Regions from separate parts of the Homo sapiens genome. Here region 1 is linked to region 2. Evidence: fine-mapped expression QTL. Tissue or cell type: prefrontal cortex. Region 2 holds a variant in brackets; the other region holds the start of a gene. All regions are shown on one strand. Distances are between the middles of the regions.

The links. PIP is the estimated chance that this variant, and not a neighbour inherited with it, causes the effect.
Region 1: SMKR1 starts here. The variant in region 2 is fine-mapped to the expression of SMKR1 in prefrontal cortex (GTEx, PIP above 0.99).

The regions. Positions count from the first base shown.
Region 1 is chr7:129,498,512-129,506,615 of GRCh38, reverse strand. SMKR1 (small lysine rich protein 1) reads right to left here and starts at 4,085. Exons shown (of 2, transcript NM_001195243.2): 1 at 3,789-4,085. The coding sequence starts at 3,791. RefSeq lists silencers at 3,937-4,276, 4,337-4,386.
Region 2 is chr7:129,166,058-129,174,161 of GRCh38, reverse strand. TSPAN33 (tetraspanin 33) reads right to left here. Exons shown (of 8, transcript NM_178562.5): 6 at 7,256-7,384; 7 at 6,602-6,763; 8 at 4,463-6,389. The coding sequence ends at 6,288. Among named protein-coding and RNA genes, the nearest start is that of SMO, 19 kb to the left of the region's middle. RefSeq lists enhancers at 3,397-4,266, 4,336-4,385 and a silencer at 4,756-4,975. The variant G/A (reference allele first, on the strand shown) is at 4,964.

The sequences.
Region 1 (8,104 bases), 330 kb before region 2:
ATTGCCTGGGAGGGTTGGGAGGGAGTAGGGGTACAGAGAGGGGCAAGAGAGAAAGGTGGATTACAAAAAAATGGGTGATGGCTGTATTTACAATCTTGATTGTGGTGATGGCTTAATGAATGCACACATTTGCCAAACCTATCAAAGTGTGCATTTTATTTTTTATTTATTTTTTGAAACAGGTCTCACTCTGTTGCCCAGGCTGGAGTACAGTGGCACGATCATGGCTCACTGCAGTCTCGATCTCCCAGACTCAAGCGATCCTCCCACCTCAGCCTCCTGAGTAACTGGGACTACAGATTTGCACCACCATGTCCAACTAATTTTTTCTACTTTTTATAGAGATGAGGGTCTCATTATGGTGCCCAAGCAGGTCTCGAACTCCTGAGCTCAAGCTATCCTCTCGCCTCAGCCTCCCAAAATTCTGGGTTTACAGGCATGAGCTACCATGCCTAAAGCATGCATTTTAAACATGTAAAATTTATTGTATATACATTCCACCTCAATAAATCTGTTAAGAAATTATTACATGGGAATAATAAAGGTTTTGTTTCTGGGCCCATCCATTCCTTGGATTGGTTCAATACAACTTTGTGGCTCTTGGCTTTTCCTGGTCTCAGAACATGCAGCTCCCAACTTAAAACCCTCCAAACTCCTTAAGGAAAACCACTTGACTCCAGCCACACTGGACTTTCTTCTAGTTCCCAACACTCCGAGCTTCTCCCTGGGCAATGCTTGCTCTTCCTGCAGACCTTCTAATTGAAGGGGCAGAATTCGTTGCTTCTCTTTACGCTAGCCTCTGCTCAAATATCACCTCTTTAGAAAAACCTCCTTGACAGGCTGGGCATGGTGGCTCACAGTGGCTCAGCACTTTGGGAGGCCGAGGCCGGTGGATCATCTGAGGTCAGGAGTTCAAGACCAGCCTGGACAACATGGTAAAACCCCATCTCTACTAAAAATACAAAAAAAATTAGCCAGGCACGGTGGCGGGTGCCTGTAATCCCAGCTACTCAGGAGGCTGAGGCAGGAGAATTGCTTGAACCGGGGAGGCGGAGGTTGCAGTGAACCGAGATCGCGCCATTGCACTCCAGCCTGGGCGACAAGAGTGAAACTCTGTCTCAAAAAAAAAAAAGAGAAAAAGAGAAAAAGAAAGACCTCCCTGACACCATGTCTATATTCTGTCTGTAACTGGAGTGACCATATAATTTATTGCCCAAATCAAGATACTTCAACAAATATAAACAAACATAAACTGAGACTGTCCCAGGCTAGGGACAGGGGGAAGTACAGTGGTCTGTCTTTAACAGTCTCCCAGCAACCCCAGTAGAGTCACTGTCCATCTCCTTCCCCGCACCACTTTTCACTAGTTAATAGTAATTGTTGTTTATGTTTATTGTTTGTTTCCCTCACCAGAGATTCTGTCTATAAATTTACCACTGAATTCCCCAGCCTACACCAATATCTGCCACACTGCAAGGATGCATAAATATCTGCTGAGTGAATGAATACATCACAACTGAGATGCAATGCAATAACAGGATTTAGAAAGCAAATGTGGATTTCTGCTTTTCTGAATTTTAAGATGCCTCCTTCATTCATTCAACAAGTATTTAACAAAAATCTACTGTGTCCCAGGCCCTGTATTAGATGGGGAGCAAAGGAGATCTCACGATGCTTACAGTCCAGTGAGGTCTGAGGAAGACACTAGTCACCTAATCACAAATGCATTTACTCACGACCCATGCTGTGAAGAAAGGGCCCTATTGGCCAGGCATGGTGGTTCACACCTGTAATCCCGGCACTCTGGGAGGCCGAGGCAGGTGGATCACTTGCACCCAGTTTGAGACCAGTCTGGGAAAGATGGCAAAATCCGGTCTCTACAAAAATTTAAAAAATTAGCTGGGCTCAGTGGCACACACCTGTAGTCCCCAGTACTCAGGCTGCTGAGGTGGGAGGACCCCTTGAGCCCAGGAATTCAAGGCCAAAGTGAGCTATGTATGATGCCATCGCACTCCAGCCTGGGCAACAAAGCAAAACCCTATCTCTAAAAAAAAAAAAACAAAAACAAAGAAATTAATAAAGAAAGACCCTATAATGCCTATAACACATGGAATTATAATAGCACAAGATGGGCAAGGGCTGACCTCATCTGGGCCATCAAAGGAAGGGCTCCCTAAGCGTGGCCTGTGGGCCGAGAGTAGGGAATTCCAAGACCAACAGCCTATGCAAAGTCTCTGAAGCCGGAGAGAAGGTGCACAAAGAGACGGAAACCCAAAAAAGGCCAACATGGCCAGCCCACAGGCAGCCAAGGGGGCCAGTGAGAGCAGCTAAGGAAGGAAAGGTAGGCAAGGTTCCGCTCTGGCTTGCAGGCTCTGTGCACTAATGTGTTTGACCCTCATTCAAGGAGCATGAATTAACTGGCATTTGCTTCAATGGCTATGTACAGCATTCTGCCTCAGTTCCCTGGGCCCTGAAAGAAATGGCAGTTGGCTGGGCACAGTGGCTCACACCTGTAATCCCAGCAATTTGAGAGGCCAAGGCGGGCGGATCCCTTGAGCCCAGGCGTTTGAGACCAGCCTGGGCAACATGGCGAAACCCTGTCTCTACTAAAAATACAGAGATTAGCCAGGCATGGTGATGCCTGCCTACGGTCCGAGCTACTTGGGAGGCTGAGGCGGGAGGATCACTTGAGCCTCAGAGATGGAGGCTGCAGTCAGCTGTGATCACACCACTGTACTCCAGCCTGTGTGACAAAGTAAGACCCTGTCAAAAAAAAAAAAAAAAAAGGTAATAGCTCTTTACCTTTAATAGCTCATGGAATGACTCTCAAACCAAGAAATTTTTACTTAATCCTTTTACACGAAACAAACTGGAAAGAACACAGAAACTTAATGATTTCTACACTAGAGTCTAATGAGGAATAAGGCTTTCCAAGGAAAAACAGGCAAAGCACCAGAGGTGAGGTGCAAAGGGCTGTGGGCGCTGAAGGAGCGATGGGGAAGCAGGAGGCAGGGTCCTTCTGATCCAAGCCTCAAAGAAAACGGATCAAGACAGGGAAGGCGCAAGGGGCTTCCAGAAGAACGCGGGTTTAGTGTGGGATGCAGGGTTTTTGTTCGTTTTGTTTGTTGTTGTTTAGCAGAGAAGATATGGCAGAGAAAGCTCGAGGTTGAGGCCCCTTTAGCAAGGGCTCTGTGCGCCCAGCTCAAGCGTGCAGTACTTAGTTTAGCAGACAATGATGCCTCCCTGAGGACTTGGGGCAGGGGCTGGAAGGTCACAGCCCTTCTGGAAAGAGCAGCGAGGGTTGGAAGGAGGTCGTAAGTGACTGGATGAGGGCTGAGAACAGGAATGCTGTTGACAGCAAGGTGGTGGTACCAGGCTCACTCTCTGCTTCCTGAGTCTGCAGAGCAGTGGAGAATCCCGCGCGGGCACCCAGGGTGGCTACGGCAGCTAACAGCTCGGACCCGTCACTGTGGGCATGGCCTGGCGCCCTGACGTGCCACACCACGGTGCCACCCTCCCTTTATTTTCCACATCAACCGTCTGGGTGTGGGGGCTGCTCAACAGGACCACGACCTAAAACCTGGAAAGACGGCTGGCCTGACTCCGCGGCTGCTGCGCCCCCAGCAGGCGCGGACCGCCGGGCACCCCTTGTCCCTCCATCTTTTCGCCACGCGTTGAGGTCGACCCCAGGGAGAGGCGGTGACCTCGGCGCCCGCGCCTCTCCGGGACAGCCTGGGGCTCCACGGCGCGCGCCCTGGCCCCGGGTACTTTAGGGAGACGGGGATTACCATGGCGATTCTCAGCCGAGCAGGCAGGCGTGGTGGACTCTCCCGATCCCGAAGCCCTTAGCATCCACCGGGGCCGCTGCCCCCAGCGCCCGTTCCCCTAGCACCCCCGGCCCCTTCTCGGCCCTCCTCAGGGAACCGCCACGGGCCCAGCCTCACTACGCCTCCCCGCCACGCCTCGCTGGGAGGAGCGCGGCCGGCTCGGGAGGCAGCCAGCCGCGGAGCCGCCTGGACGCGAGGCACCTGCTTGCCCCACGCGGCACCTAGGCCGCCGCAGCTGTGGGCGCTGGGCCGGCGTGCGCCTCGGGGGCGGGGCCGCGCGCACAATCACCGGGCGTGGGGCAGGGCCTCGCCGTGGTTACCGTTGCCAGGGCAAAGCGGCAGCGCGCGGAGGGTGAGCGGAGCGGGGTTCCGGGCTTGCGCGCGCGGGATGGGCCGTCACCTAGTACGAGGCCGACCGCGGCCTCCAGCGCCCGGAAACCCAGTTCGGCGCTTTAGCGTCTGGGTTTGGGCTGCCGGAGCGGCGGGCGCGGGGCGAGGGGGCGGGCGCGGGGCGAGGGGGCGGGCGCGGGGCGAGGGGGCGGGCGCGGGCGGCGCTCCCACTGGGGTGGCACTGGGGTGAGAGCGCAGGCTAGGCCCGCTCACTCGGCCAACCTGGGAGAGATCATCGGAGAAGCTCTTTTGGGAAACGAGCATAAGGACTGTGACGGTGAAGGGAGAATATCATGGGAAATGTTTGCAAAAGAGCCGGATAAAGAGAGTAAGGGCCCGAGAGACTAAAGGGGTGGGGAGGGAGTTCATGTGCAGGTAGGATTGGGCGAGAAAGGTACAGTAGGTACAGTTTTGCCTCCAACCTTGCCAGTTCCAGCCTCCCTCCCTGCAGGTGAAGTCTACACTTCGGGTGGTACGACTCATTCTTTTTTATGACTGGTCATTCCTTTTTTTTTTTTTTGAGACCGAGTCTCTCTCTGTCGCCCAGGTTGGAGTGCAGTGGCGCCATCTCGGTTCACTGCAACCTCCGCCTCCCAAGTTTAAACCATTCTCCTGCCTCAGCCTCTTGAGTAGCTGGGATTACAGATGCGTACCACTATGCCCGGCTAATTTTTGTATTTTTAGTAGAGATGGGGTTTCGCCATGTTGGTCACGCTGGTCTCGAACTTCTGACCTCAGGTGATCTGCCCGCCTCAGCCTCCCAAAGTGCTGGGATTACAGACGTGAGCCACTGCCCGGCCTATCATTCCTTTTTATTCAACAGTTATTGAGCATCTGCCACGTGCCTGACACTCTTCCAGGCCCTGGAAATTGAGCTCTGAATGAGGCAAAGTCCTTGTTCTTTTAAGGGGTGATTTGGGGGAGGTGGTCGTGGCTGAAATGGAGGGCCTGGCAGACATTAAAAGTGATAGGGACAGTATGGCATATTGCATTAAATTGATGTGACCACTGGGTGCTCTTTTAGATTGGTGACTGGGGAAGGCCTCTCTGAGGAGGTGACGTTAAAACAGATCTGGATGACAAGGAGCAGTCAATTATGCCAAAATTAGGGACAGGGGGAGGAGGCTAGACCAAGAAGCAGGAGTAGGGTCCTGGAAGGCTCTGCAAGGATGTGGTGTTTTGTTTGCTTTCTCTTGAAAGACAAACTGGCTTCCAAAGAGGACTGTTTATGTTCTAGGTTCTCTTACATATGCTTTCCCTAATCCTTCATTAACAGAGCAAACCCAACTTCCAGCTACTTTTAATATGTCTGTGAGTTTTTCTTATGAGTCCATATGCCCTGGATATGGCAAATTCTCCTGCCCTCCACCTGCACTTTCTTCTCTTCTTGCGCCTGTCTTCATCCCTGGATGGGGCTGGCCCACCCCAGCCGCTTACACTTCTCTGGGTTATCTCAGCTCTCCCAAGGTTACCCCTATGGGATCACTCCCAAATCTGTTCCAGCCCTGCTTTTCCTGAGCTCCAGATCAGAGATCCAGAGCCCTGCTACAAGGTTGTTTTGTTTTCTTTCTTTTCTTTTCTTTTCTTTTTCTTTTCTTTTCTTTTTTTTTTTTTTTTGAGATGGAGTCTTGCTCTGTTGCCCAGGCTGGAGTGCAATGGCACGATCACTGCTCACTGCAACCTCTGCCCCTTGGGTTCAAGCAATTCTCCTGCCTCAGCCTCCCAAGTAGCTGGGATTACAAAGCATGCGCTATCACGCCCGGCTAATTTTTGTATTTTTAGTAGAGACAGGGGCCAGGCTGGTCTTGAACTCCTGACCTCAGGTGATCCGCCTGCCTCGGCCTCCCACTGGGATTACAGGCGTGAGCCACTGCTCTGGCCTCCTGCTACAAGTTTTAAAACTCAGCTGTCTTGAAAGTAGATCAGTGGTCGAGGTGTGCCATGGGTGGGGGAGGATTGACTCTGCGGTGGGCTAAGAGGAAAATTCCTGAGTGATGGAAATACTCTCTATCCTGATTGTGGCAGTAGCTACACAGGTGCAGGGCTGGCTGCATTATTTGCATGGCTTAGTGCAAAATGAAAACAGGAAGAAGCAGGGAAAAGTGCCACTAAAGGTACTAAATTAGAAAGCTTTCCTTTTCTCTGTGGTCTCTATCAACCTGTTATGCTGTTTTTGTTTACTGTTTAATGTGTTTCCTTGGGTACGGGAACACTCCCCTTCCTAGCTATCGTCCCATAGCAGATGGGTGGCCCTCGAGGGATTGCACCCTCTGTGCCAGGATGTGCTTGGTGTCATGACTGTGGTGGACAGGATGCTCGCGTGTCTCACTCTGAATGTACGGGGGTATTGCCATGCCCTGCCCTAGATGGGGTTGGGGGTTGGGTAGGGTGAAGGTGGGGATTGGGGGTAGTGGGGGGTGACAAGAGGTGAGACTCAGCAGCAGCTAAGGCACCAACCCCCTTCCCCCAGCAGCCTCCATTTTCCCGTCAGATTTCATTGACAAAACAAAAATTCAAAGGTAAAATTACTAAGAAATTTTCACACTGTGAAACTCAGAGCACTAAACCCCGAGCCTATGGCCCTTCTAAGAGTAGGACTCGGCCAGGCGCGGTGACTCATGTCTGTGATCCCAGCACTTTGAGAGGCCAAGGCGGGTGGATTACCTGCGGTCAGGAGTTCAAGACCAGCCTGACCAACACGGTGAAACCCCATCTCTACTAAAAAATACAAAAATTAGCCAGGCATGGTGGTGGGCACCTGTAATCCCAGCTACTAGGATGCTGAGGCAGAAGAATTGCTTGAACCCGGGAGGCAGAGGTTGCAGTGAGCCGAGATTGTACCACTGCACTCCAGCCTAGGTGACAGAGCAAGACTCCTTCTCAAAAAAAAAAAAAAAAAAAAAAAAAAAAGGAGTAGGACTCTGTGTGACCACTGGGGGGTCAAACAGCCCATGAACCTGGCCCTGCACAGGTATATACATTTGTCAGAATTAATTAAATTATATACTTCAAATGAGTGCAGTTTACAATATATGAATTATAGCTTGATAAAGTTGATTTTGAAACTTCAACTCAGGAACCTTACCCTACCGCATCTAAAATCAAACATGGCTGGGCGCGGTGGCTCACACCTGCAATACTAGCACTTTGGGAGGCTGAGGCAGGTGGATCGCTTGAACTCAGGAGTTCAAGACCAGCCTGGGCAACATGGTGAAACCCCATCTATGCAAAAAAAAAAAAAAAAAAATACAAAATTTACCGGGCATGGTGGCACGCATTTGTGGTTCTGGCTACTTGGGAGGCTGAGGCGGGAAGATCGCTTGAGCCCAGGGAGTCAAGATTGCAGTGAACAGTGATTGCACCACTGCATTCCAGCCTGGGCGACAGAGCAAGACCCTGCCTCTAAATCAATAAAATCAAACACTTCTCTTAGCCAATGTGTATCTCCTTCTGTTTTGGATGATGGCCTCAGCAGCCATCTAGGTACCCACGCTAGGAACTTGTCACCTTTGATCCCTCTCTCTCTCCTTGTATCTAGAACACTCTCATCTGCACCTACTTGAGGCTGCCTCCTGACTTGTTGTTTTTTTTTTTCTTTTTTTGAGATGGAGTTTTGCTCTTTCACCCAGACTGGAGTGAAGTGGCACAATCTCAGCTCACTGCAGCTGCTGCCCCCCGGGTTCAAGCAATTCTCCTGCCTCAGACTCCAGAGTAGCTGGGATTACAGGCGTGTGCTACCACACCTGGTTAATTTTTGTATTTTTAGTACAGACAGGGTTTCACCATTGTTGGCCAGGCTGGTCTTGAACTCCTGACCTCAGGTGATCCGCCTGCCTTGGCCTCCCAAAGTGCTAGGATTACAGGCATGAGCCACTGCGCCCAGCTGA
Region 2 (8,104 bases):
TGACCTTAGGTGATCCACCCACCTTGGCCTCCCAAAGTGCTAGGATTACAGGCATGAGCCACCGCACCCGGCCAAATTTGTGTTGTTTTGAGCGCTGAGTTTGTGGAAAGTTGTTACAGCAGCAAAAGAGTACTAATACAGCATCTTACTCTGATTCTAGTTTTTCTATTAACTCTGCTTGCGAGCAAGAGAAACTAGTTGAGCTTCCCTAAGCAAACAAAACAGGCTTTACTGTAAGCAGATAGGGAAGCCACGGCTGGAAAGCAGTGCCGCTGCAGAAAGGTTCTGGGATTATAGAGGAAAGGCGCTTCTAGGAGGACTCCTCTTCTTCCTCCTCACCGCACTCCACTCCTTCCTTCTCTTGTTTCTGGGAATAGACTTTCTCCATAATCAGTCCCTGGAGCATAAGAGGGCTGGTACCTCAGCCTCCCTTTGCCTTCTCTTTCTTCATGAGACCAGCCCAGGCTGTGACTAGAACCTCATTCTCAATTCCCAAGTCCCAGGGAAATAACTCTGTTTGTTACTGTTTGGGTTAGGTGCCTGTTGTGGGTTGAATTTTGACTTCTTAAAAAAGATATGTTGAAGCCCTAGACCCCTGCACCTCAGATTGGGACCTTATTTGGAGATAGGGTCATTGCAGAAGTAATTAATTAAGATGATGATACTGGAGGCCAGGCGCGTGGTGGCTCACGCTTGTAATCCCAGCATTTTGGGAGGCTGAGATGGTCAGATCACCTGAGGTCAGAAGTTCAAGACCATCCTGACCAACATGGTGAAACCCTGACTCTACTAAAAATACAAAAATTAGCAGGGCGTGGAAGTGCGTGCCTGTAATCCCAGCTACTAGGGAGACTGAGGCAGGAGAATCACTTGAACCCAGGAGGTGGAGGTTGCAGTGAGCCAAGATCGTGACACTACACTCCAGCCTGGGTGACAGAGCAAGACTTTGTCTCAAAAAAAAAAAAAAAAAAAAAAGATGAGGATACTGGAGTACAGTGGGCCTTGATCCAATGTGACTGGCATCCTTATGAGAAGAGGAAAATTGGGACACAGACACAGAGGGAAGATGAAGAGGGAGGCAGAGTCTGCATTTATACTGCCGCAAGCCAAGGAATACCCAGCTACCAGAAGCTGGAAAGGACAAGGAAGGATCCTCCCCTGGAGGCTTCCGGGGAGCATGGCCTGGTCAACACCTTGATTTCAGACTTCCGGCCTCCAAAACTGTGAAACAATAATTATCTGTTGTTTTAAGCGATCTATTTTTGTGGTACTTTGTGATGGGAGCCCTAGGAAACGAATAGAGTGCCTGAGCTGGATCCAATCAGCTATGCCTAGGGGACCAGGCCTTAGAGGATAAATATGGCTCCTCAAGACTCACCCCTATGGCTTGAGGGGTGGATGCCAGTTTCCAAAGAAGAAGGAATCATTGCAAGTTGGGAAGATACACTGAAAAGCTGTCTACTGTAGCTTCCTAGAGCTAGGACAGTATGATATTCTGGTTTTCTTGTTTGTTTTACTTTAAAATCTTAGCTCTTTTACCCTTCTGGAATGCTTTGCAGTGCACAGTGTGAGGTAGGAATCTGTTACTTATTTTCCACACTGTAATAATTCGCCTAATAGCATTTATTAGTAATTATGATTACAGCTTCCTCTCAACATTGCATTGCTTCTTGTTTATTATATAGTGAGCACCGATGTCCAAAATATTTCTGGAATCCCTTTGCTATTTCCATTCATTTGATTGATTTTCCACATTCCCGATATGGTAATGAGAAGACTCTGGAGGCTTAATTTCCAACTGGAGTTCTAGACCGTGGTTATCCCTTACTTTATTCCCTCCCCTAAGTGCTTTACCTATGATGATTTGAAATATCTAATTGCTCTTATTTTTGGGGGTGGGGTGGGGGTGTTTACAAAACAGAACAGAAGAACTGCTGATGGAAGAAGCTGTGCTGCTTGCTTTGTGTGTGTGTGTGTGTGTGTGTGTGTGTGTGTGTGAGAGAGAGAGAGAGAGAGAGAAAGAGTCTTCTCTGTTGCTCACTGGAGTGCAGTGGGGTGATCACAGGTCTCTGCAGCCTCGACACCCACCTCCCTGCCTCCCACCCCCACCCCTACACACCCCCAGGCTCAAGTGATCCTCCCCACCTTAGCTTCCAAAGTAGCTGGGACTGACCCAGGAGGCTAGATAGCAAGAGACAGTAGAGGCCAACATGTCACCATGCCTGGCTAATTTTTATGTTTTGTACAGACAGGGTCTCCCTCTGTTGCCCAGGCTGGTCTCAAACTCCTGACCTCAGGTGATCCTCCTGCCTTGGCCTCCCAAAGTGCCGGGATTACAGGTATGAGCCACTGCACCTGGCCTGCTCTCCTTTTTGAACCTGGTCTCTGGCCCTGTTAACATATCTGGTCTTCAGGATGAGGATAAGTCAGAAAATAGCCAAGGCTGCGTATTGAACTTCATAATAAATATGTGCCTGGTGCATCATAAGCACTTGATAGACGTTACATAATTATCAGAAAGAAGACCAGAGAACACCTACCTCAAACTCTTGCCAGCATCCAACATCAGCTCATTCCCAAATGCCCCGCACCTGAAGGCATTCATGAGGCTGGAAAGGGGGATGTAATGAGCTAAATCATGCCACCCCAAAAATGTCCATGCCCTAATCCCTAGAACCGATGCATCTCTTTCCTTACATACTAAAAGGGACTTTGTAGACGTGGCGAGATTCATGATCTTCATGGGGGAAGGGCATCCTGGATAATCTAGATGGGCCAATACAATCACAGGGGTCCTGTCAGGGGGCAGTAGGAGAGTCAGAGAAAAAGGAGATGTGATGACAGAAGTTGGAGAAAGGGACCACCCAAAGGTATGCACGCGGCCTCTGGGAGCAGGAAAGATGGATTCTCCCCTGAAGCCCCCAAGAAGGAATACAGCCCTGCTCACACCTTGATCTTAGCTCAGTGAGACCCATTTTGGACTTCTTACTTCCAGAATGTAAGATAAATTTGTGTTGCTTTAAACTACTAAATGTCTGGTAATTTGTAACAGTAGCAATAAAAACCTGATAGGAGGAAATCAGAATTTCACTGAACATTCTGCAAAATTTGCTCTTCTGGGCACAAGTCTTTGTTTAACTGCAGGGCTTAAGGCCCGCAGAACTTAGTGGTGCCTTTCTTGGCATGCCACCCTGGCAGGTTTTCACCATCCTTCAGGCCTTTCTCTCCACCTCTGTGTACCAAGCCTGATTTCTGCTGTCCCCAAGAATCTCCTTTCATTCAACCACCTTTGCGGCCTACATTTGATTAGCTATTCTAAAGTAGTGGTGTCAGAAGCATTTGAACCAGAGCAACTCCATCTTCAATAGGCGCTGGGTAAAATAAGGCTGAGACCTACTGGGCTGCATTCCCAGCAGATTAAGGCATTCTAAGTCACAGGATGAGATAGGAGGTCGGCACAAGATACAGGTCAGAAATACCTTGCTGATAAAACAGATTGCGGTAAAGAAGCCGGCCAAAACCCACCACAACCAAAATGTTGACGAGAGTGACCTCTGGTCGTCCTCACTGCTACGCTCCCATCAGCACCACGACAGTTTACAAATGCCATGGCAACGTCAGGAAGTTACCTTACATGGTCTAAAAAGGTGAGGCATGAATAATCCACCCCTTGTTTAGCATATCATCAAGAAATAACCCTAACAATGGGCAACCAGCAGCCCTTGGGGCTGCTCTGTCTATGGAGTAGCCATTCTTTATTCCTTTACTTTTCTAATAAACTTGCTTTCACTTTATGGACTTGCCCTGAATTCTTTCTTGTGTCAGATCCAAGAACCCTCTCTTGGGAAGGACTCCCGGTAACAGTGTGTGTCTGGTAACAGTGTGTGTTTGGGAGGAGGGTTACTAGAAATAGGTAGAAATTCAAGGAGCAAACATGAAATATAAAACTTCGCGTATTTTCTTCCCCAGCATCAGGCCGAAGAGAAAGAAAGCTACAGACTGAGAATCAGAGACATTGGCAATTTGCAATCTAGCTAGGAACCCTGAACTGCACTATACTGAACATTTGCTCTGTGCGTTATAAAGTCTGGGGCATGGGCAGAAGTTCCCAGCCTTTTAGTCCAGACCCAGGAGGCTAGATACTGAGAGACAGTAGAGGCGATGGTGAAAGTGTAGTTCTTAGTTTTGAAAATCCAGATTTGAATAATCATTCTGAGGATCACGGTTCCTGGTCTTACTTCCTCCAAGGGGCCCCAAACGGAGCCCGCTGCAGGGTGAGCTCCTCAAAGCCGCTGAACCCAGAGGGCGCATCACTCCAACCTCTAACCCAAGACATCGACTTCTGGGTCCGTGTCACTTAAATAAGTTTATAAAGTGCACGTCTCTGGCACTAACCAAGAAAGGCAAGTTAGCAAGAAAGCGCGCTTTTTAACTGTCCTCTCCCAGAATAAAAGGCCCTTACTTTTTATTCTAGATTCTGGATAATTTTATTTTTTCTTTCCGTCTGTTACTAGTTGGGAGCTAAACACTGGCCAGGGTCCCAGCGGCTGCTGGAAAGGCGCCTTCCTAGGAGCAGAAGGCTCGCTTAGGAGACACTGGGGGCAGGGAGCGAACTCGCGGCTCTTTGTCCCCGCAGCAGTTCGGTCGAGGCTATTTCCCGCCAGGCCGAGCCCCTGGTCTGAGCGCCCGATAGCGGGGTGCGGCGAGGAGACTCCGGGAACACTCGCTGGGCAAGCAGCTAGCACAGCCCCCCATCTCCTCCGGGTTGGGGGACGCAGGCGCGGGCCTAGGCCGCCGCGGGGGCGGGGACCACCCACGAAGTCCAGCGCCCCGCCCCGGACGCGCCCGCCCCGCCTGCCTCGCGCGCTCCTCCCGGCGCCAGGAGGCCCAGCGCACCGCGCCGAGCTTCCTCGGAGTCCTCCCTACAGCCGACTCAGGGAGAAGGTCCTGGAGGGCCCGGGTA[G/A]GGGAAGAGAGGGCCTTCTTCCTCCTCATTCCCCGTCCCGGCCCCAGCGGAGTGCTCATGTCCCTCCTCCCCATCCCCCTCCTGTTTTGGGTGACAAATTAATTTTAATTAGAAAAACACAGATCAGGTTTTGGAACAAAATTATGCTGTTCCTAGATTGGAACTGGGACTCTTTCGACCTAATTTAGAGCAGAGGGCGAGGCTGTGGGAGGGTGGCAATGCATCGGTTGAAGGAGACGCGCGTGTGGCGGGCAGCAAGGGGGAGGTGTGTGGCGTTTAGGAGAGTCTCCAGTGCCGTCCTCTGCAGGGCCCTTCTACACCTCCCCTTCCAGTTGCCAGAATGGAAAATTCATGGAGTCCCGCGTAGCCCAGGTCAACACGCTTTTATTGCCACTTCTGGCTCCCCTCGTCCCAGCAAGATTCCTACCTCTTACCCTGTAGGAATACTGAGCTCCGATGCAGGGGAATGGGGTGGGGGTGTTACCACTTCTCCTCTGCACACTGCCAAGTTAAAGAAAACCCTGCTTGCTGGAGAGGGAGGGCCAGACAGGGAGGAATTCAAGGGCATGTATGGCTCAGTCCCACTTCTGACTGCAGAGTATAGGGACCAGGGTTCCAAACTTTTTTTCGAAGTAAGGGAGGTGGGGAAGAATTTGGCTGCTGTTGTACCCCGTGTCCTAGCTGCCATGTTTCCATGGAAATGAAGGCGGGGCAGGATGTAGCTCACTCTGACTACCTGGGAGGATGGCAGGACAGGCATTTGGTAAACATATCTCCCTCCACTCCTACCTAGCACATACGGCTGTCCCCAGCCGACCCCCAGGCTCTCTCCTCACTGCCTGCTCCACTCCCTTCCCTTCTGGAGCTGGTATCATGCCAAGTGGAGTCCAGGCAGGGCTGCCAGTGCTACTCTCCACAGCCAGGTCTCACTGGCACGTTAGGATCTAAGTATGTCCGCCAAGCTCAGGAGCATCCCTGCTAGAGCTGGTGGTGGCAGTGCCTCGGTGAAAAGGCAGCAGCAGTACCCCCAACTCTCTGTGCAACTGCTGTTTCCCAAACAAAACTGAAAACATAAACCCAAACACTTAAGGGTATCACTCTGGCACAATGCTGAGGGCTGGGATGGGGGAGAGGAGGCGCATCCTCCTGAGACTGGAGCCACCTGTGCACCCTGCCTTCTGCCCATCTGGAGTTTGCTTCTTCCCACTGGGCTGTCACTGGGGGGCTGGAATCCAAATCTCCATTTGGTGCTGCTTTCAGCACCCACTGCTGTTCGTTTATGAGGCTTGCCAGTTTCCATGGTGAGGAGGTGCAGGATGGATTCTCAGTACCATGGGTCAGCCCGGTGCTGCTGGTTGTAGAGCTGTAGCTTGATCTGATCTTTGATCTGATTCACTAGGATCTGGGACAGCAGAATTCCCACCAGCTGGGAGAGGCAAGAAGGAATTGGGCACTCAGCAGTGAGTGATGGCCTTGTTTTCCCTGGCTCGATCTTCCCAGTGCGGCCAGCACTATCCCTTTCCCTACCCCTCAGCCATGTCAGTGCCTGACACCCTCGCTGATCCCCAGGTGCCTTCCCCAAAACAAAGGAGTCTTTACAGAGTGTGTGGGACCAACAAGTCTCACAGGGTAAGTTACCTGGGGGATGGCCAGGCCTAGAGCCACACCACCAAGTAAGAATAGGTTGCTGTGTATCCAGTTGACCAACTTGTCAATACAGCCATTGGTGTAGATGACTTTGCTAGCTTCCAAGTAGTCAAAGGCCTGCATACCTTGGCCACACATAGTGTTGATCACTGCCTGGGGAAAGAGTTGAAAAGCCAATTGGGACTGTAATTCCAATAACTTTTTGTTTGGGGCCTTAGCTGATGGGCTTCCCACCCTTCCCAAACTCCTAAATTGTCAGAGAATATATGTGGAGGATATTGGGTTGGAAGTTGCCAAATGCAGACTTCCCTTCCTCTGAGAGGTCAGGATCCAGGTCTCTTTGCTCTGGGTGGTGGAATAATCTGTACAACAAACCCCTAAGACACAAGTTTACTTATATAACAAACCTGCACAGGTACTGAATCTGAACTTAAAACTTAAATCTGTCCCTTCTGAACTCCATGTGGACTACATGAGTATGAGGTTAATAGAAGCATCAGGTTGGGGTGAAGAAAAACACCTGACAGCTGTCCCACATGACTGATCGGTGAAGCTAGGGGATGGGGATCCCCAGTAGCAGCTGCCCCCATCAGAAAGTGACTCAGCTCGCTGCCTAGGAGGAAATGAGGCAGGATGCTGGCTCACCTGGTCAGGAGTAGGCAAGCAACAGGAGTAAGGCACAGAGCAGCGCTCTCGACTGGGGTTGTCTTCTGAGCAGTTGAAATACATGTTCTGAGACCAGTCCTTGTAGGAAATCCCTCCACAGCAGCTAAACTGCAACAAAACCCACCAGAGGTTAAGAATCACCCACCCCTCACACTGAGGTGACCAGGGGAATTCTCAGAGCCACCAAAAGTCTATAGCAAGCTTCTACTGGGAACTTTAGGTTGTGTTTTAACACAGCCTTAAACTTTGAGCTCCAGCTTCCCAGTTGCCTTCGCCTGAAGATATTCTCACTTCTTAATTTCTATTACTTCGTATATCTTGTTATAACTTACCACTGTGCTTGTTGGTATTACAGTTGTACATATATTTTGTTTTACATACTCAGCTATAATCTTCTTGAGAGAAGTTTCTGGCTTTGCAGGCAAATGGAAGTGATCAAAAGTATTGGCTGAAATAATTACAGTATCAGTGCTGAAAAACTTCTCCTTAAGATAGAGAAAACACAGGGGAGGAATCTTCAATATTGTGAGTCAATCATTACTCCATGAGAGCCAACTGGATCTCAAAGTCAAGTGTCTATTGCACCAGAGGAAGGGGAACTCAGGACTTGTCTCAGAAGCACTTTTACTTAAAAGTTAACTTTTTTGGCCAGGTGCTGTGGCTCACACCGGTAATCCCAGCACTTTGGGAGGCCGAGGAGGGCAGATCACCTGAGGTCAGGAGTTCAAGACCAGCCTGGCCAATATTGCAAAACCCCATCTTTACTAAAAATACAAGAATTAGCTGGGCGTGGTTTGGCAGGCACCTGTAATCCCAGCTACTCAGGAG